Linked DNA regions of Homo sapiens: all the other regions are linked to region 2. The links come from fine-mapping of genetic effects on gene expression. A gene starts in region 2. Each other region holds a variant in brackets. All regions are shown on one strand. Distances are between the middles of the regions. Region 1 overlaps LOC102724421 (a long non-coding RNA gene). Region 2 holds the start of GRIP1 (glutamate receptor interacting protein 1). Region 3 overlaps GRIP1 (glutamate receptor interacting protein 1). Region 4 has its middle 220 kb from the start of GRIP1.

Evidence for each region. PIP is the estimated chance that this variant, and not a neighbour inherited with it, causes the effect.
Region 1: its variant is the best candidate, but not a certain one, in a credible set for the expression of GRIP1 in esophagus mucosa (GTEx, PIP 0.58).
Region 3: its variant is the best candidate, but not a certain one, in a credible set for the expression of GRIP1 in whole blood (TOPMed, PIP 0.72).
Region 4: its variant is the best candidate, but not a certain one, in a credible set for the expression of GRIP1 in sun-exposed skin (GTEx, PIP 0.65).

The regions. Positions count from the first base shown.
Region 1 is chr12:67,076,254-67,081,409 of GRCh38, forward strand. LOC102724421 (a long non-coding RNA gene) reads right to left here. Exons shown (of 4, transcript NR_120490.1): 4 at 1,373-1,491. Among named protein-coding and RNA genes, the nearest start is that of CAND1, 190 kb to the right of the region's middle. The variant T/C (reference allele first, on the strand shown) is at 2,721.
Region 2 is chr12:66,676,026-66,681,181 of GRCh38, forward strand. It overlaps GRIP1 (glutamate receptor interacting protein 1), which reads right to left and starts at 3,051. Exons shown (of 25, transcript NM_001366722.1): 1 at 2,825-3,051. The coding sequence starts at 2,879.
Region 3 is chr12:66,390,809-66,395,964 of GRCh38, forward strand. It overlaps GRIP1 (glutamate receptor interacting protein 1), which reads right to left. Exons shown (of 25, transcript NM_001366722.1): 17 at 3,400-3,544; 18 at 1,869-2,008; 19 at 1,500-1,694. Among named protein-coding and RNA genes, the nearest start is that of HELB, 91 kb to the left of the region's middle. The variant G/A (reference allele first, on the strand shown) is at 2,498.
Region 4 is chr12:66,894,265-66,899,420 of GRCh38, forward strand. It overlaps a transcript of GRIP1 not described here. Among named protein-coding and RNA genes, the nearest start is that of GRIP1, 220 kb to the left of the region's middle. The variant T/C (reference allele first, on the strand shown) is at 2,800.

The sequences.
Region 1 (5,156 bases), 400 kb after region 2:
GTTGGGTGGGTTAGATGAGTTAGTGCATGCAAGCATTTAGACCCAAGTCTGATGCATAAAGAGAATCCAATAAATTTGACATATTATTATAGGGCCAGGTATGTGCCTTACATACCTTGGTATTATCACAGGCATTAAGCATTGCACCTTATAAATAGTGTGAGCCCAGTGGATGCTTGCTGAAAGGATGAATATTAAAAATAGTTTTAATTTCCTACACAAACCTCCTGTGATCAGAAAGACTTGGCCCATAAATATACTAGAGATAGAAATCTTGCTTATTACAAGGTCTGACAATATTTCTAAAAGGAACCTTTTAGGTCAGAATGGAGAGCAATGACTTCATTATCCCGAACAAGAGAAAAATGACTAATTGAATAGAAGACTAGACATAAATAAGCATTTCATCAGGAAAATTAAATAGAAGGTTCCTACCTTCATGACAAAAACCTGCTAATAATAAATTCAGGTTTAGTCCCTTGAGTATCTAAAAAAATTAGAGCAATGAAGTGATTAAGAAAACTGATTTCAGAGGAAAATTAAGGTGGCTGGTTATATCTAGTATAGATTGGGGAAGCAATGACTAAGAGCTTTCTTGGTGGAAATTCATAGGATCATTAAAGGAGTAAATACCAAACAGGAAAAGGAATTATTTATCATGTTGGAGGTGATAAATAAAAGTAAAGGAATAAATGAAAGGAAAGTGTAAGCTCGTCAAGAAGCAACATTTAATTTGTATATAGGCTGAGGAGTAGTGAAAACTACTGGTTAGAAAATATTGTGTGCATACATCTTCTACTGGTTATTGATTGATTCAATCATTTTAGGAAGCAATCTGGCAATATATAGAAACTGCAAACCACATATCATTTTACCTAGGCTGAGCCAGGCGGATCACGACATCAGGAGATCGAGACCATCCTGGCCAACGTGATGAAGCCCTGTCCCTACTAAAAATACAAAAAATTAGCTGGGCATGGTGGTGCACACCTGTAGTCCCAGCCACTTGGGAGTCTGAGGCAGGAGAATCGCTTGAACCCAGGAGGTGGAGGTTGCAGTGAGACGAGATCACACCACTGCACTCCAGCCTAGTGACAGAGCGAGACTCCATCTCAAAAAAAAAAAAAAAAGAAAGAAAGAAATAATCAAAGATGTGACCAAAGGTTTATGCTTGAATATGTTTATCATACCTTTATTTATAACAGCAAAAAGTTGGAAAGGTTCTAAATGTTCAATAATAGAGGTTTGCTTAAATAAGTTAAATTGACTATTGTAGAGCCTTTAAACATCATAATTTAAAAGATAGTAGTAAATTCTCATGTTATAACATTTAGCACAAAAAAGGGTTACATATACCATACTTCACAGATTCTAAGAGGCATAGTTTTAATATTTTTACATATCTAAAATCTGAATATTTCTTGTCATTTCATGGCATGTCCAAGTGTATTAAGACTTGCAGGTGGGGTGAGGTCAGCTTGAAGCCAAGTTCTAGAAACAATAACAGAACACTCTTTCAAGAAATGCTGTCTTGCCAATACCCTAGTTGAAACAGAAGATATTGTGTGGAAAACCACAAACATTGAAAAGTCTGAATCATAGAGTGAATCATAAGACTTAAAGTTTAAACATGAAAAAGTTTTAGTAATACCTAGACAATTAGTTTCACTTATTTTTTATTATGTAAGTAAAGATATTTGATAAAACCTATGTCTAAAGGATTTCTTTCAACAAGTATAAAATAATAATTCTTAGTCGTTAAGCATTGTGTCATAGTACTAGCATAATTTTTGTTTATTTTGTAGTAGTGCATAAAGTATTGATGGATGTTAATAAAGATGACCTCCTAGATTAACGAAAACCAATATGTATATATAGTATGAACCAAACTTTTCTTAGAAGGGAAGAGATGCATCAAAATGTATCCTGTCTATTAACATTATCTGTGAGTTTTATTCTCCTCTTTTTATACACTTTAATATTTTTCTTAAAAAGCAATATTACATTTCAATACAAAAATTTTAGTAAATATTGTTTTTAAAAACAATAGAGAAAAAAACGTAGACTAAGGTTTTTCTAGACTACTCTAGAATTGGTATATCTATCAGCCATTCTGTAGTAAATAGGCTAAGAAATTGAAGTAGAGAAGTTTGAGTTCATTCTTGCTTCTGTCAATGTAACCATTTACAAATGATGTGGTTTTCTAAAATTTTCCTTTGCCCCTGTGTAAGAAATACACAATAATGTTCACCAGCCTATTTCAAAGTAACAGTGACTGAACATCTGGAATGAAACAAATAGATTATATCATAATTGCAGGGCATCTCAGTAAAGAGTATGAACACAAGCATTTTGTAAAGACAAATCTATTTTCCCTTTAACTTATCACTAAGTAACATTCATCTCCACACTGGTTATGGGGCCAGACCATCCAATCTATTGAAATCCCCAGGAACATCAACCTCAGATCAGTTTGTCTGATGTACCAAACGATTTTTTTAATACCCCTTAGGGATTTGTAAGCTTATTTATTTTTACAACCTGCAAACTTCAGTCTCGGCAATGAACATAAAGTGCCTGACACATATGTATTATGCATGTATGAGCATTTGTTTATATTATCTTTGACTTTTTAAAATCTGTTCAATGAGCCTTTTTATTCCATACTTGTTATATACGATGTTTCATTAAGATCCATGAAAAGAGTCTCTCCTAGTTTA[T/C]ATTTATATTATTTAAGCACTACAAGTGATATTTGCTACTGGTTATGTAAATGGAAAATAACTTATGAGATTTATGATGTTATTTTCTTTCCTGCACTTGGTGACTGGGTTGCCTCTTGGTTTTTATTTATGTCATGAATGATAATCAGCTCCTTCTGTTTGCCCACCCGCACAGTTGCCTGAGCTTTAGGTGTGGCTGGAAATGATGGTGGGGGAGGAATAACTGCACTCAGTTCAAATGATAATAGCCCGCTCCTTCTATTACAGCAACCGTGAGGCAGATCAGCTTCCAAGAAAGAATGCCAACCTGCTTTCTGTAGGTGAAGAAGTCCCAGGGCTTGACTCAGAAGGTCCTCTAGCACCGCACTTTGCAGTCAGTCCTGTGGAAGATGCAAAAAGACCTATCCTATGGAAATGCCTATAAATGATTAACAGGTAGACAAAGGAATTAACTCAAAATTGTAAGAAAGAGTAGATTAGATGAGCACCAAGAAATGTGACTGTCTACAGCCACCTTGAAATCTAACAGGAAACAGGCCAAATGGCAAATTAGACTGTTTAATGGTTGTGTGTGAAAGTGCCTCCTCCTCATAAAGGAACTGTAACAGATCCACTCTTGTGCAAAGAGAATGTTATAAACAAGATAATGAAGCTTCGAGATAGCTTCCCTAAATTCACTAAGTCATTAAGTAAATTTTACATTATAATCTAAGTGAAAAAAATAAACAAACCAGAAAAATCAAAAACAAACCAAAAATAGACCAGAAAAGCCTGAACAGGTCCTAAATGAAATGCCATGAAGGTCTCCTCTCAGAATCACTGTGGATTCTCTCATGCTCCGGATGAAGCAGATTGTATCAAGCAACAACATCACTGAACTTTTATTGAAAGTGCAATCCATATTCTACAAATGAAACTTAGAGTTTCCTATCTGTCTGCAATTTAGTTCTATTTTTAACTCATTTCACAGCTCAATTAATATTCCAGTGTTTTATTCTTCTTCACATATTCAGAGCAGCCTGAAATAAACTTTACTTTGAAGCTACTTCCAGCCTTTGCAAATCCTTACCCTTCTCAGAACCTTCTTTTCCATCACTGCTATTTGTTCTTTCTCCCTGGAGACTTCCTTGTTGTCACTTCAAGATACAGACCTTGCCACCTGCTTTCCACCATTCCAAACTGCACCTGTCCCAATTGTAATCTCTGCTTTCTAAGTGCAAGTTAAGTAATCCAATACATTAATGTGTGCTAATGTATTATTGGTCATTATTGTGCAAATGAAAGCATGTTAATTTCCTATCCTCTTTTCCCTTCTGGGAATTTTTACTATTTTACTATGGCCTTTTGAAAAATGGCTCATTTCAAAGAGGTGGTATTGGCAGTGGGAATTTTTAGGTATCAGACCTATGGAGGGAAGTAGGACAATCATGTGTGTGTGTGTGTTTCCTCAAATCACAACATGGAGGAATGGCATCACGTGGGTAGTAGCTGATGCATTTCACTGTTACATTATGGATAATTCTGCAACAGTTCTGTTCAGAGCTGCTGTAGACTCAGCATTAGGTTAAACTCTAGAAATATGCCATGTAAAGTGACTTGCATTTTCATGTCTATTATAAAGGTTAAAACATTTGAACTTTCTGTTTAATTGGTATATATTTAAACTTCTCTTGCAATGGTCAAAGAAAGACTTTTTGGCATTAAACTGCTGCTGTGTAGAGCCTAAATGTCTGAAAAATTCATTAAAATAGCACTTTAATTTTGACAGAGTTGAACTGCTGGGAAAATTAATTGATTGTTTCTCACTTGAGCTTTGGAGAAGTCATTAAGGTTTTTATGGTTTATGGAAAATTGAGAATTGAAGTACACTAAAATCAATATGTTATCTGATGTACAGAGAAAATGGCACTTGAGATGAAAGAAAGCATAAACAATTCCTAAGAGCTTTTTCTTTCTTTCTCTTGATTCCACAGGCATATTTGCATAGAGCTTCTATATTTACTTGTATTCAAAGTCCTTTGTCAGTCGTTTTTATTGTGATGCACATTATGGGGACAGAATAATGAGGTCAGAGAGATGAACCACTGCATTTTAGAAACTTTTCTGTTAATTTCAAAAAAAAAAGTATTAAGAACATAATATAAAATACCAGAAATAGTCTGGGCATGGTGGCTCACACCTGTAATCCCAGCACTTTGGGAGGCTGAGGTGAGCAGATCACTTGAGCCCAGGAGTTCAAGACCGGTCTGGGTAATACAGCAAGACCCTGTCTCTATTAAAAAAAATACTAAAATACCAGAAATATTCAGATAGGTCTGTATATTTTGAAACAACCCTTAACAAGAAAGTTGTAATTAGGCTAACATGTTAGGAGCAAGGAGAAATACTTCGAGGTTTCTATATATATTGGGCTTATATGCATTATGGAAAAAATCA
Region 2 (5,156 bases):
ATGTGGAGTGATCCAAGGACTTGTCTAGAAATACATGTTTTATACATCTTTTAAAATTACATCTGACCTAAAGAAAAAATATTTATTGTTCAATAATATATTCATTTTAAAAATGCTTTTTACACCTATAAATTGTCCCAGCCCAGAATTCTAAGTGCAAAAATGTCAGTGTCTGGCACATAGTAGGTACTTAATCGATATTTGTTAAGTATGTATTAGATATATGAAGAATGTAAGAATCAAGTAAAAATATCAAGAATGTGGGTGTTTGTAGAAAATTGTTTCCCTTTTATTCCATCATTTTCTCCTTAAGAAAATTAAGAAGAAATTGCAATTGCCATATTGCTTTTTCTTGTGGGTGATATCAACCACAAATAGCAAGGTAGTTTTGGAGTCATGAAGCAAACTTCCCCCTGCTAAGATCTGGGTAAGGTTTTAGCCACAAGAGGCCTAATAAAGCTCTTGAAGCATTTCCTAAGAGCTCACAGAAGATTTAAATGCCCTACTACTTTCAACTAGACAAATCCAATTCATTTTAACAAACAGTTTTGAAGTGCCTACTAAGTGTAATGCCTTGTGCTAAATGTCTGGAAGAGTGAGTGTTAGGTGGAGCCCTCAATGGGTATAAAGAAATATGTATGTTTGGGAGTTGAGGGTGAGGGTGTGGGAGTTGTGTGAGTAGGGAGAATGGGACAAGAAAGAAACTTCAAGTGTATATCCACCCCTGTCCCCAAATACACTCCTGACCCTAAAAGAAAGGTCATTTTAATATTGTAATTACATATGTTTCCTGGTTTTATCATTACAGCTTAAGAAAACAGCACCACAAGTATGGGTGGGGTGCTAGAACTCAATGAATCCACTTTGGAACAAGAAGCATGGGTGGAACTTGAACGTTGTTGGACAAGACTGAAGCAGATGGCAAGGCAAGGTACCGTGTTACTCAGGTGCATTCTTGTAAGTATTTGGACAGCCAGTTAAACACAAAGAAGAACCCAATTATGGCAAATTGATTCTGCAAAGAGATTTTATTTTAATCATCAACTGACAGTCTTAAGTTAAATACCAAATAGAGCAGACATAAAGATTTTGGAAAAAAGTGTGAGGTAGCAACTCCAAAGCAGTTATCAATACTTTCCTCAATTATCTAGATTTTTAGCGACTATCTTAGTAAACACTTAAATCTCCTTTCAATGCAGGAGATCAATGCTTCCATAAAATTCAGAAAACTGAGAAAGTTAAAAATATTTGTAAGAACTATAAATTGCTTGGGTTCACTCTCTTCCTTGTATGTAGTACTTATAAAAGAACTGATACAGATGAATAGAAAATACTGATTGTTTCATGTTTATGATGTAAGAAGACCATCAACTTCTCAACATCAAGATAAGTAAATGCCAAAATCAGGTCAGAAAAGAACTTTTCAGAATAAGGGCCTGCCTTTAAAAGTCTCAGCCAAAACCGTAACAGAAAGGATAGTCTCTTAGTCATGATTTATAAACAGAAATTGTACGTCTGTACCAATTGTAGAGGATAAAGTCAAAACAGAATTTACAGCCTCCTGCTAATAGCCTAATTTAAAATGTATAATCTTCCCTACATTTCCCCCAAAGTACCTTTTAAAGGACTCACTCTGCTATCCAAACAACTTGCAAATGCATTCGGTAAGTTGGTCTACAGTATTTATTCTCTTTCCTGTTATTGACTCAAGATCTATTTCTCATGATTTGCTTTGTGCTCATTCTTCTGCCAGATAAAATATTAATTGCATTTTTAGCTGCACTGCTGGTGATCAAAGAATTCTGATATGTCAAGCTAAACTGACAGAAATAGCATCCATTAACATATTTATAGGTTCAGAGCTTCTAGAACATAATTATATCCATTAATTACTCAACAGTACTCTATATTACAGGCTGAAAAAGAAAGGCATTTGCAACTAAATACTTTTACTCAGAATGAAGTTTTTTTTTAAATAATAAATTTTCTCTAAGGAAGGTTCTATCTAAAGGAAATAAGGCAAGAGAGCTCACATATCTATATGGACACAAGGCAGGATTTTTAAGGCATCCATTTACTAACTTTGCAATAGAATGCTCACAAAGTAAACGAGATGGCACATCCAGAATGGTTTCAAATAAAATAATACCTTAAATATTACAGAGAAATTTAATTACTATTTTAGAGTTCTAAGAGTGACAATCTGAAGCTGGTAATTCTTGATGATAAGATTCCGAGCAATGATTTTTACTTTCAAATAAACTTCTAGTATTACATAGGACCAAAGCATTTGGAATTACATACTTTTCTGAACATGCAATTCTAACACATAAAGAAATTAAAGCTGTCCAGGGAAAAAGCTCTTAAGATGTTGGAAAGTCATAGAACAAACAATTATTCTGTGGATCCACCAGCTGTGCGAGTCCTGAATCTGCCAGCTGCATTTAGTATATGTATCATAGAAAGGACAGTAACACACACTTGACTCCTTTTGGCCAGTTAATCAGCATGCAAAATGACGGTTTCCCACAATAACTTCAGCACCGGACCCAAACACATTCTCTTTTCAGCAAAGAATGAAGTCATTAAAAAAAAAATCACACAAGCTGCTTTCATAATTTCAGCACGAACACAACCGAGATGTAAGGACAGAAAGCAAAGCCGAGTCTACCTGTACATATGTATCTATACATATTTCACTGAGTTCTTTGTTGCCTGACAATAAATTGCAAAGGCAGTCATATTTGAAAGTAAAAACCATTAAACTGTGTTTATAGGATACTGCAACAGACTCGCTGAGGGAATAACAAGGAAAGCACGATACCTTTAGTAAGTCGCCTCAGAATTTGACAACGGCATTTAAAAGAGACAGCTATCATTCTTGCTCACTGCTTTCTGTGGCAAAGTGTACTCAAGGCTCTCTGCTCTGGTGGCTGCAGCAGCAGCAGCATATGAATTCCTTGCGCACATACCAGGAGAAAGGTAGTCCCAGTGGGGAGTGACAAAGCTTAATTCCTCTTGGCTGATGCAGAGGTCCGCTACATGTCATCTGGCAAATCTGTGTCATTCACTACTACTACCACCCCTGCCTGCCACAGCCTCCTCCCCCTTCACAATCACAATGGCTTAGAAAGTAATGCCGTTTCGATAGCAACAAAGCACCAAATTGTACAAAGCAGGGACGACACTGTGTGAGGAGCCATTCCATAAATCTAACGCTAAGCACTGAACAGTGCATTCTGTTTAAGGCAAAAGGCGATGTATCCAGTCAGTTCAGCCACCATCAGCCCCTTTCCTTCTCAGCATCAAGTCAGTGTCCTTTATATGTCTCATTTAATGGGAAATGCAAGTGAAATGCTTACACTCTTACTTTAGGAAGAAATGCATGGGTCATGTACTATGTTCTTTAAACAACAACCAAAAAAAAAAAAAAAAAAAAGGAAAGAAAAAGAGGGAGGGCCGTTTATATTTGGGATTGAGGAAAGAATCACAGTTCTGCCTATAGCGGGGAAGCAGCTCTAGGACAGAGACCTCTTTGGTACTTCCTGAACCTATGAGAGTTAAGGCAGTGTCTGTTTATAGAGGGAATACAAGAAAGGGTTAGGGCTAGGCAGACAATCAGGCAGATGGAGTCCCAGCCCCTTTAATCACCCTTCCAAAAAAGGACTTGGCTGGAAAGCAACACAGTCAAGACTGTTTCTAAAGATACCAGAAATAAAGGCAAACAAGGCCAAGTATTTCTATTTTTAATATACTTTATTATACTATTTCCCAAACAACCATCCCCCAAACCATTCTTCTCATTATGCAAATAAAACGGTCTTGCGACATAGCAGATATTTGTGAGTATCTGCTCCAATGGAGTGAAGAGCAAATTAACAAACCCTTCACAATCCATTCACAAAGTGATAAGAAGGCGGAGCACACCTCCTCATCTGCCAGCAGCAGCCTGCTCGCCATATAGTCAATACGAACTAACATTTGGTAGGGAATTTTAATCAAAATCCAGAATTCTCCCACAGGAGTTAACATAAACATTCAGGACAAAAAATTAGACAGTTGGCCAGGAAGTTTAAGAAAAAAAAAATCAATTAGTCAAAATGAAAAGATATATCACTGTCTAAACTACTTGATTAATATTTCTAGGACTTTATGAATTATTCATACAGTTTTATTCTCTACTCTTCAGGCTGTGAAAAAACTTTCAAGCTGGTTTTTAAAATAACTTCCAACATTCCAAATTTAGTGGTAAAACTTTCTTTTCTTCATTCATAAATTCAATATGAACTCAAACAATTTCAATCCACTGCTATTGAAATGCATATGCTTTGTATTTTGAGTCCAATAGAAAAATAATTTGTGTGTGAAAAACATCTGAATATCATAAGCATCTACTTTAAAGGTTTTTGAAAAGAACAGAATTCTTTTACCAAGGATGGTCTAGCTAAAGCAACCACTAATCAATAGAAAATACTATATTAAATGGACTGCAGTGCAAAATCAAATTTTTATAATTGTTCTGATTAGCATAAATCTTTCTTTGAATTTCAACCCATATTATGTTCATCTCTATTAGGTTATCCCTAGAAATAGTTTAGCCTCCTTGATATTTTTTTGCTTTAAATAGAAATATACCTTAGTACTAGAGAACTGAGTTACTAGCTAAAGTGAGATAAATACTTACAGTTAGCTCTTTCCAAGATTCTTCTCCAAATCTAACATATTTCCTAAAATCCAGGCACTCAGAATACGCAGCTGTCAATTACTATTAGTAGAATCTTGCCTGTGGAACACCACCACCCCAGCCCAGTCTATTCAAATACAACTCAAAACCATACAGGAATCTCTTGCCTTCTGCTATTTTGCAGACTCAAATCCAATTTGCTTTTTCCTTATGACTAAAATGATCAAATATTTTCCCCTTTTCCTAATATGCTTATTTTTTTTGTTTTGTTTTAAAAGCTCTATCCTCTGGTCCCAAGAAAGGTCTTCAGAACTACTAAAATGTCCTATTTCTTTGGCAGGGGAAATAACCCATCATGGAGCTCTTTGAAAGGTTTCTGAGAGCCCAAACTAGGGGATTGTTTTTTCTCTCTTTGAATACTGTGGCTGCCAATCCATATCTATCCTATTAGTCTGCCCAGGTGCAGCCCCAG
Region 3 (5,156 bases), 290 kb before region 2:
CTGGTGGCCCATCAATTCTCAGGCAATCAGAAGGTCTGTTATTTGGTGGCATAGGTGAACTTGTCACAAGGTATTATGACTTGGAAAAATTAATTGCCAGATAAAGCCCCAATTCTACTTAGGTGTTCAAAGTATTTTCCCCACCTAACTCCAGTATCATCTCTAATGAAAGTAACAACTTGACAACTTTGAAATATCATCTCCTTTCATTTTTTTTTCCAGTTTTTTCTCCCTTCCATTTTTGTTTTTTGTTCACCAGAGGACTTAACAGAGAGTGACACAACATAGGCAGGCTGAGAGAAGGAAACTAGGAAAACCAGGAGAGAGCAAACTGGATACAGACACTCCTAAAAAGTACAGTTAACTCAGTGACAAAGCAGCCCTCACACCAATGTGTTCTCTAAACTGTTTATGTGTTTTATTATTTGACTGACTGAAACCCAGAGCAAACAAGGGATTCAGAGGCTGGAATTTACATAGAACATGAGAGAAGGTAAGGCTCAGATGAGGAGAAATACCAAGAAGTTTTGACATACTTCTCTTGTTGATGCTACGGATCACTGGGAAGAAAATATTTTTTAAAAGAAGCTATTAGTTTATGCTCTGTATTCAGTCTGACACCTTTTATGTGTTTATATTCCATGAGTGAGGCTTTTTAATGTAGATAGTATTTCTTCACATGACGATGACACCTATGAAGAAAAATCTACTCTATACTTTCCTATATTGTGATTATAGTGCTCTAATTATAAACATTCAGGGAAAGGGCATGGTGGCTCATGCCTATTATCCTAGCACTTTGGGAGGCCAAGATGGGAGGATTGCTGGAGGCCAGAAGTTTGATACCAGCCTGGAGAACATGACAAGACCCCGTATCTACAAAAATTTAAAAATCAGCTGGGTGTGGTGGTGTGTGCACATAGTCTCAGCTACTGAGGAGACTGAGGCAGCAAGATCCCTTGAGTCCAGGAGTTTGAGACTATAATGAACTATGATGGTGCCAGGGTATTCTAGCTGGGGTGACAGAGTGAGACCCAGTCTCTAAAAGAAAAAAAAAAGTCAGGAGTGTGCAGGAATAAATAGAGTCACAAATCATTGGCTAATCTCTTATGCACCTCTTCCAAACTCCCCAATCCATCTTTGTGGAAAGCTTGCTGAAAAATAAGGCAATGGGGCCTGTATTGAACGAGCCACTTTATTGTATGGTTTGCCTCACATTAATCTAAGCTTGAAGGACAAGCCCTGGATGGGATACTTGGCCATCAGTAGACCTAATGGAGGCCTGTTAGTGTTTGGTAAAGGTTCATGCCTTATAAGCACTAGAAGAAAATGCATGGCCAGCAGAGTGTAAGTATTCAATGTGTTCAATATGATTATGGCTGCACCAAAGCAGACACAAGTTAAAGAAAGATATTCTCCTCATGGAGCAGAGGATGAATCTTGGAGAAGCATGGGCTTCAACAATGACAAGTCCTCTGGGGGACAAAGTAAAGACATACCTTGAGTTCCATAGCTGGTGTCTATTGCAGACCCATCCCATGAATCCACAGCACTGTCCACACTGGGCACCGTGGAGGGGTACATGTCGGAGAGCTTGCCTGGCTTCTGTGCTGGTGAGGAGTCCTCCTCCACATCCCCCAGGTCACTCAAATGGCTAGAAATAGGGAACTTCTTGGGGCTCGATGCTGACTGGGCTTTATAGACAGGAAAGGAGTTTAAGTATCAGAGTAAATTTAAATAAAAATATACCAAGATACTCCGTGGCTAGAGATTTGTTTCCCTAGAATTACACACAGACACTAGCACATTCTTTCAAGGAAGAAAATGCACTGGAAATCCTTAATTGTGGCTTTCAATTCACTACTCACCATCTGTCTGTTTCTTAATTTTCAAGGTGACAGTCTCTCCTGCCATCTGTAACAAATGGATGGCTTCACTCAGAGGCTTCCCTTTCAAGCTGCTGCTATTGATGGCTAGGATTCGGTCTCCTATGTGGATTGCGCCAGTTCTGAAAAGCCAAATAGTAATAGGAGAGGTAGAAATAATCCCTGTATGGTACTGAATATAAATTCCCTGACATACCTTATACATTCATCATAATAAAGACTTGGTAAGGATCTCCAGAAGTCCCTTCTTGCTTTCTCCTGGGCAATGTTATAAGATAACTGCATCTGTTGTGGATTACTTTTTAGTTTCCAATAAAATTTTAAAAATTGTTTTAATTAGTTATTAAAATGAACTGTGTTTTTTAATTCCAAGAAAGCTGAGTCATTGGTTAAGCACCCTAAAAATCCCAAGAAAATGAACAATGTTGAATGACAAATGTAGTGGATAGCATGGAGCATCCTTTCTTTCTACAGATTTTTTTTTTTTTTTTTTTTTTTTTTTGAGACAGAGCCTCACTGTGTCACCCAGGCTGGAGTCCAGTGGCACGATCTTGGCTCACTGCAACCTCCGCATCCCGGGTTCAAGCAATTCTCCAGCCTCAGCCTCCCAA[G/A]TAGCTGGGATTACAGGCAAGCACCACCATCCCCAGCTAATTTTTCTATTTTTAGTAGAGATGAGGTTTCCCCATTGGCCAGGCTGGTCTTGAACTGACCTCGTGATCCATCTACCTCGGCCTCCCAAAGTTCTGGGATTACAGGTGTGAGCCACCGCACCTGGCCTGTATGAGCTAATTTCTAAGGTACACTGCAGCTCCAACATTTTGCAATGCTGTGTCTCTATTTTGCTAGCCACTGTTTTCAACTGTTAGCAGGAACAATGCATTTGTGTATTCCTGAGCTAGGTTACTGGAGGGCAGATTTGCTTATAGGGTTTGTTATATGTCCAACAACACATCTCAGAAAGAAATGCAGTTTAGCGGAGGGTGGGGAGTGGGTGTGTGTGTACATCATTGCCAAAGGAAAAAATGGACATTCCAGCTTTTAAGACATTATTAAAATGGGTTATACACTTTGTTTCCCATAATCCTTGAAGATGATGTCTGTATCATCCTTTTCTGAAAACACAGCAGCTAAGTGTGGCACCTGTCAGGTAACAGAGGCTCAGCAAGTGTTTGCTGAATGAAATTGGACAAGCTGTTCAACCTCCCTGAACTTTAGTTTCCTCCTCTCAAAATGGACACAATACAAATCCGCCTTCAGTCAATTGTGGTCAGCTTATACATTTCAGAGAGTAGTATCAATGCTAAGCCCAAGACGTCTTTTACTGCCTGTAAGATGCCCCTCAGAGTCAAGTCGGAACTCTGCCTGAGAGTTCTCAGGCTCTAAGATCAATCCTTTGTGCAGATTTTTAAAAGCCAACAGATAACCACAGAGAGAGGAGCATGTTTTTATGTGGTTGTGAGGAAGGAAGCCCGTCTCAGACACAGGTAATTATAACAGTTACTTCAAATTTTACCTTTCAGCTAATCCCCCTTTAGTGAGGCTTGAAATGATTATAGGATCAAACGGCTCTTCAGTTCCTGAAATTGTGATGCCAAGGGGCCCCCCGTAGCGTTTAAGCTCCACGGTGTAAATAATTGCTCCGGAACTTTCTTGCTCATCTGTAATAAATGCCAAGGAATCATAATTGATTTCTTTGGAAAAAGCAAAAGAGTAAGATGCATAGATTCATACATAAAAGAATTCAAAACATCCTCGTCAAAGTATCATGTCACAGAAAATAATTATTTTGGGAAGTAGCATTTCCTTAGTAGGATCTTACATTCAAATACAGGGATATAATCATTGTCAGTGCCAGGGGAGAGGAACACTGCCTAATGACTTATGTTTTAAATGTGTGAGATCCGCCCAGCTGGGGCTGCAGGACCTTTCAACTGTGTCCATGTCTAGGACAGTGCTTACCTAGCATTTAGTAAGTATGCAGTAAATATCTGTGAAATAAACATATGGCTGAGGAGGCATTATAATATGAGAGGAGAGAGTCACTCAGTAACAAAGAAGACAGACATTGGGTCACGCTGTTTCCGTTTTAAGCTTTACATGCATGCTAACTTTTGATATAGAAAAGTGGATTTTGCGAAGGGTTGGAACAAATAACATATATATGGTTAAGTGGAACTTAGATAAGTAAACTTGAAGACAACAGCAAGAAATCTAGAATCTCTTAGATATCATTCCACTGACTGTCTTCTAATGTGAGTCCTATCAGTGAATTACGGATATTAAAGTGGAGGTTTGAATGATCATCTCTCCTCTTTCAATGGAGTAACAGCTGTTGTAAGCTATGTTTCAACAGCATAGACCAGCCTGCCACACTGTCATAAACTAATTTTGGCTATTCAACATTATTATAGTTGAAGACACTTGTGAATGTGCTCTGCCTAAAGCACTGGCCAGAAAGATATCATGGGCCGCCTTCAACGTGATGGGTATTGTGATGGTGTCAGAGTTGCAAATAAGAAGTCTCAGAATTCAAAGGTTTTATTTGCTTCTGACATGCTTAAAGTTCTTGGGCACTTCTTGTTTTATTCCTTGGGCCTGGGAGCTGTGAATGGTTAAGGAACTGTTTCATTTCTGCAACTAAGGATAAAATGAAATGGTTCAGTGGCTACTTTAGCAAAATAGTCAGCTTTTACAGTCAGACTACATCCTAGTGAAGCATTAACATGGCCACATTTTTGCAGTGAGCAGCTGTTCGTTTACGATATGAAATCCTAAAATAAGGAGGAAAACCAAAGCTTGAGTTAACAATTCAATTATTTGTGTTTGCAGTGAAGAATTATGATGAATATAAAATGAAAGGTCTATCAAGTCATTTGGGAAGCAATGTGTCCTCTCTCGCCAGCACTTACTTCACTTCTGGCCATAGATTGGGAGTTTTGAATGCAGCCATTACCTCCACTTTCTGAGTGCTCTACTCAACGTATTTACTCCACACATTCAGAACTAAAGACCATCCACCACACACTGCAATGCTTAAGTCAACATTTTAGGGCACAAAATCTTCAACATTGGGCTCAAATTTACATTAGCAGCTGAGAAGCTCCCATATCAAGCCTAAAACAGCTCTGTTTGCTGGTTCACAAGTTTCTTCTGGGCTGATGCTGAAGTTGTGGCCAATAGGCTGGTGATGATCTGCTAAGGGCTCCAGAGAGAAACATCAAGATAGAGGGTAACCAAATAATCAGCAGAGGTCAAAAGTCTAAATTTTCC
Region 4 (5,156 bases), 220 kb after region 2:
TCTCTCCTCAGGTTCTTCAGTTTCCTATCAGTTCACTCTCAGCCTCCATCAATTTACCCAACAGCGTCTACCCCCTACCAAGCCAGCATGTGTGTCTTGTCTCTTTCTGGAGGCCCCATTCTCTTCTTAGATTCTGAGTCAGTTGGTTGTCCTACAACCAAGGTCCTCTATGAGTTCCAGACAATTCATAACTTATAGTTTGATACACTTTTTAATTTTTGCATTATAAGAATAGAAACAATGCTCCTTCTAGCTGCCTATGCCCCAGGAGGAAAGCCAGGGTCTTCTGTATCCCAGTGTGTGCTGAATGATGTTCTATGATCACTGGCCCTGACACATTTCCCTGACTTTGCCTTCCAAGGTCCTCATATGCCCAGGACTGCCAAGGCTCCTGAGCTAATCATGAAAATGGCAAGAATTAGATCAGAAGACACAAACTGCCTCCCATACACAGACTTAGGAATTAAATTGTGCTGTCAATCAGACCCTGCAAGGGACAAGCAGTAGAGGTCCCTCAGGCCTTCCAATGGCAACTTTTCCAGTTACTGTGTTGAAACATTTTTTTCCATAATCTTTGTGGACATGCTGACCAATAACTTTGACTCCTTGTAGGACTAGAACCCTAGCCAAAGACCCATCTAAGCCCCTCTCTCAGGGTCTTGCTGCCATCCTCCGGTCAGTGGTTGCCATGCTGCTGTGAAGAAGCAGGTGCCTCTGCTGTGGATTAGCTATGCCTGACTTTGCACTCTGTGCTCCACCTGGAACCCCCAATGTGCCAGATTGTCAGCCTCTGGTACCATGTGCCAGATTGTCAGCCTCTGTTACCATGAACTGCCTTCACCACACCCATTCTTGGGATAGGTCTGTGGATTGTTCAGATGCCCTTTGATATGGTTTGGCTGTGTCCCCACCCAAATCTCATCTTGAATTGTAGCTCCTATAATCCCCACATGTCATGGGAAGGACCTGGTGGGAGGTAATTGAATCAAGGGGGTGGGTTTTTCCCATGCTGTTCTCATGATAGTGAATAAGTCTCACAATATCTGATGGTTTCATAAAGGGCAGTTCCCCTACACACGTTCTCTTGCCTGCTGCCATGTAAGATATGCCTTTGCTCCTCCTTTGCCTTCCACCATGATTGTGAGGCCTCCCAGCCACGTGAAACTGTCAGTCCACTAAATCTCTTTTTCTTTATAAATTACCCAGCCTCAGGTATCTCTTGTAGCAGTGTGAGAACAGACTAATGCACCCTTATAGTAGTCAACTGTCACAGCCTCACTTGGTCTGGATCCATTCTCTCCCCTTGTTTCTACCTGAGCCCTGTACTGAGGTATGGGTAATGTTCTCTACTGGGCACCATTAACAAGCAGAAATGAGATTTGATTAGCAACCACTGCCTTATTCAAGAATTTCTCCCCAAAGGTAAAGCTGGCCGCAGACCCACCACTACCTCCTGCAGTTAATGTAACCAGTGGTACTGGTTTACTTTCATATTAATGTTCATTTACCAGAAGATGAGGAAGTTATATACACTCCATAGTACACTGTGTTTCTTATCATATTTTTAAAAGCAACACTAATACATTTTTGTTACTAGTTTAGCCTAAATAATAAATGTGTTTAAAACTCAAAATGACTATGGCCACTTCTTATATCAGAGGGGAAAGTTAAAATTCCTGTCATTGAGAAAAAAGTCACTGCCAGTTCTGCTATACTGGTAAAGAATCAATGGTCATTTTGTTTAGCAAGATATTAACAAATTTTTAGACAAAGGCAGGCATGAAGTCAAATAAGGAGTTGCCAGCTAGACAACTGTGCATAAAATGCGAGAAAAACTGTATTTAAAGTATAGCTAGAACTGGAGCAGGATGAAGCTGCAAGAGACTGGAGCTTGCTACAAGGGTGACCTAAGAGAATTCTGTGATGGGATGACTGGAGGACATTTAGAAACAGAAAATTCTAAATTCAGTTTGAGGTTGTGTTGTGGTGATGGAACTGCTAACTGATCCCTGTTGCCCCAAACATTCAATAAAGTCTGTTATACCTAAAAATGCCTTGTGTGTGTGCAATCCACAGGGAAGTCTAGGAGGAGAAGGAAGCCAGGTATGGGTCACTATGGAGCATAGGGAAGCAGATGGCAAGGGAGATCAACACTTCAATGGGAACTGAAAGTCAAAGTCAGAGTGACTGTGAGAATATTACCTCTGAGGAATTTGAAAAAAAAAAAAAAAACTTTGGTGGGCCTGAATGCCCCATTGGATGTAGAAAAGAGGGTTTTTGTCAGTGTTTTGTGAATCCAGTCAAGAAGGGCTTCTAAGGTGTCATCTGTGATATGCTTTTGCATATGAATGGCTACCCCTTCCAGAGATGTGGTTGTGGTATAAGTTAATGTCATGGTGACATAAAGAAAGATGTGAAGGGGTTAAAATACTGCTGCAAAGAACAGCTCTGGCAGACTGAAGAATAAGTCAGGAAGCTGTTTTTAGAATCAAGAGAGTTCTAAGTTAACCAGCCATAATAAATTCTGTATTCGAAGTTAAGTGTCACGAAACAAGAATTAAGAAGATAGCTTGGCAGTTTTCTGGTTCCAAGATTTCAAAAACATTCCCATGATAAAGGAACAAATAATTAGAATGTGTCAAGGCATTTTCCAGACACTCTTCCGAAGACCTGTTCCGAAGGCAACACGAAGCTGCTCTGAGAGGCAGTGTCACACAGTGGTTACACGTGCAGGCTCGGGAGCCAGTTTGCCTGAGTCCAAGTGCTAGCTCAGCTGTTTGCCAGCTGCGTGCTCCTGGG[T/C]ATGTTGCTTATATTTGCTGTGATTCCATTTTCTTATCTATAAAATGTGAACAATAATAAACAGTTAGAAATTCACAGTGTTGTCGGGAAGATGGCATGAATCAATGCATGGGAAGCACTTAGATGGGCACCCACCACCCAGGAGGCACTCGGTATGTGTCAATGCTCTTTTCATGAAAGAGCTATAAGCGCTCACTGAAAGTGCCCTAAAGCCCTGCCCCAAGAGCTAAGAATCACACTCCCCTACTTAGGGAGAAAGCTTAAGGTCACAGTTTTGGAGTCTTCCATGGAGGTGAGAATCAAGACAGAGCAACTTTCAGAGTTTCTGCCTCCTTATTAGCCTCTGAAAATACAGAAAACTCCACTAGTTTAACAACTGCACATGCTATAATACCATTTAGGTCAGAAAAATACAATGTTCCCTTAATTAAGACCCAGAGGTTACAGCTGAGGAAGGCAATCAGCCGCTTCAGAACATATGCTTCAAAGACCAACCTACAAATGCATGGGAGGCAGTCATGATGGTGGCGGATGAGCTAAACAGACAAGGGTTTTCTCTAAATAGAGATTTTCACAAACAGTTGATGAAATGGCAGTACACCAGGTAACAGATCCAATTATGGCAAAACAGGGGAAATTAACGCTATGCCTCAGGCATACCGTGTTTAGACCAGTGATTTCTTTTTGTGAATTCTAATATGTATTTTTTACTGTGATTTTGAAATACCTTTCTAATGTTTCCTTGTTCAAGATGTAAGTGTGAATCCAAACACATGCATACACACCAGTTATGGCTTTGTAAAACCAAGTAATAATAATCCGCCACAAATTGCTAGGATCCATTTTTCAATAAAAAATAAAAGCCAAATCCTCGCAAAACAAAGAAAAATAATCAGTACTGACAAGAATACATTGCCTAACCTGTGTACTGTAAAATCTCAAGCAACAGTACAGTAGTTAAAGGGGAAAATAATGTTTATTTATCACCTTTATCACCTAAATGCGTGTCCAAATACTATGTTCCACATTCCCCAAAAAATCTACAAAGTGGAGGAATTTTTAAGATCCTTTTATTTATGTTAGCCGAGGCAAGAACTGAGATTCAAAAGCAGTTCTGTCTGAGTTCAAAGCCTGTGTTGTGCCCACTACACTAATATCCCGAGACACAGAGTCCTTAGCCTTCCTCAGGAACTGGTTATAGCTTATGGCATTTTTTTCTTTAATGATGCTCACTCCTAAGAAATGTTTCCTAATATTTAATCTAAATCCCTCTCTTCTCTTCCAGTTTAAACAATTCCTTTTATTTGTGTCCTCGATGGGGAGAGAGAACATTGGTCAGTGTCCTCCTTAATAACAGCTCTTTAACAGTTATTAAATTGCTTCTACTCCAGGCTAAATGCATCCAACTCCTTTAACCTTTTGTTAAAGGGCCAATTTTCTAACCTATTGATAATTGCATTTGCTCTTCTCTGGACCTTTTCCAAGCTCTGGATGCTGCCCTCAAAATTCATATATATACACTCCTCTTATCATGAAGAGCCTATGCCAAGTAAAGCTAAAATAATCCTTCCCAGTTCTTTCATAAGAGAAAGAGATTCTTAATTTTAATAAAAGCTTTATTTTGTTAGGATATTCGTTAGCAATTTACAATCCCTTATCGTTACAGATTTCTTTTTATGACACTCTTTCCTAGTCCAGCTTGTGCCCAATGTAGTGTGTTTATTAGCAACAATTACAATAACTACCTTGAAATTACTCTCTAAAAACATGCCAAGTGCTTTGATGCCTAGAGGGATAGCAGCCTGTGCTGACAGGGATTGAGTTGTTGAACAGGAAAGTTTATGTAAGGCCTCAACACCAAGGATCCTGGCAGTAGCAAGAAGAAACAGAGCATTATGACAGAGCATGCATGTGACAGCATCAGTATCTTCTTACAGCAGGGGCATGTAGCACAGAAAGGGATCAGGTTGTCTTGTTTTTCTGGTGTTGTATCCCTAGCGCTTCTCTTTGCATTTCTGCCTGGGTAACTCACTCTAATTTCTCAATTTATGTCCATATTGCTTCTTGGATCACTCTTTTAATTCACCCCAGACTGAACTTGATCTCTATCTTCTTTGACATTAGCAGTCCCATAGAAAGTTGCAGGAAGGCAAGTAAGAGTACCCAGGTCCAATAAAGGCTTAAAGGGAGCTCTCTCATTCACTAGTCAATGAAACACTCATTCAGTGAAATGCTGCTGTCAGGACAGAATGTACTTCCTGTAGACATCATTGGAAAGAAACTGTTCCTGTCCCATGTGAAAAAAAATTTTTTTTTTTGAGTCAGGGTCCTGCTCTGTCACCCAGGCAGGAATGCAG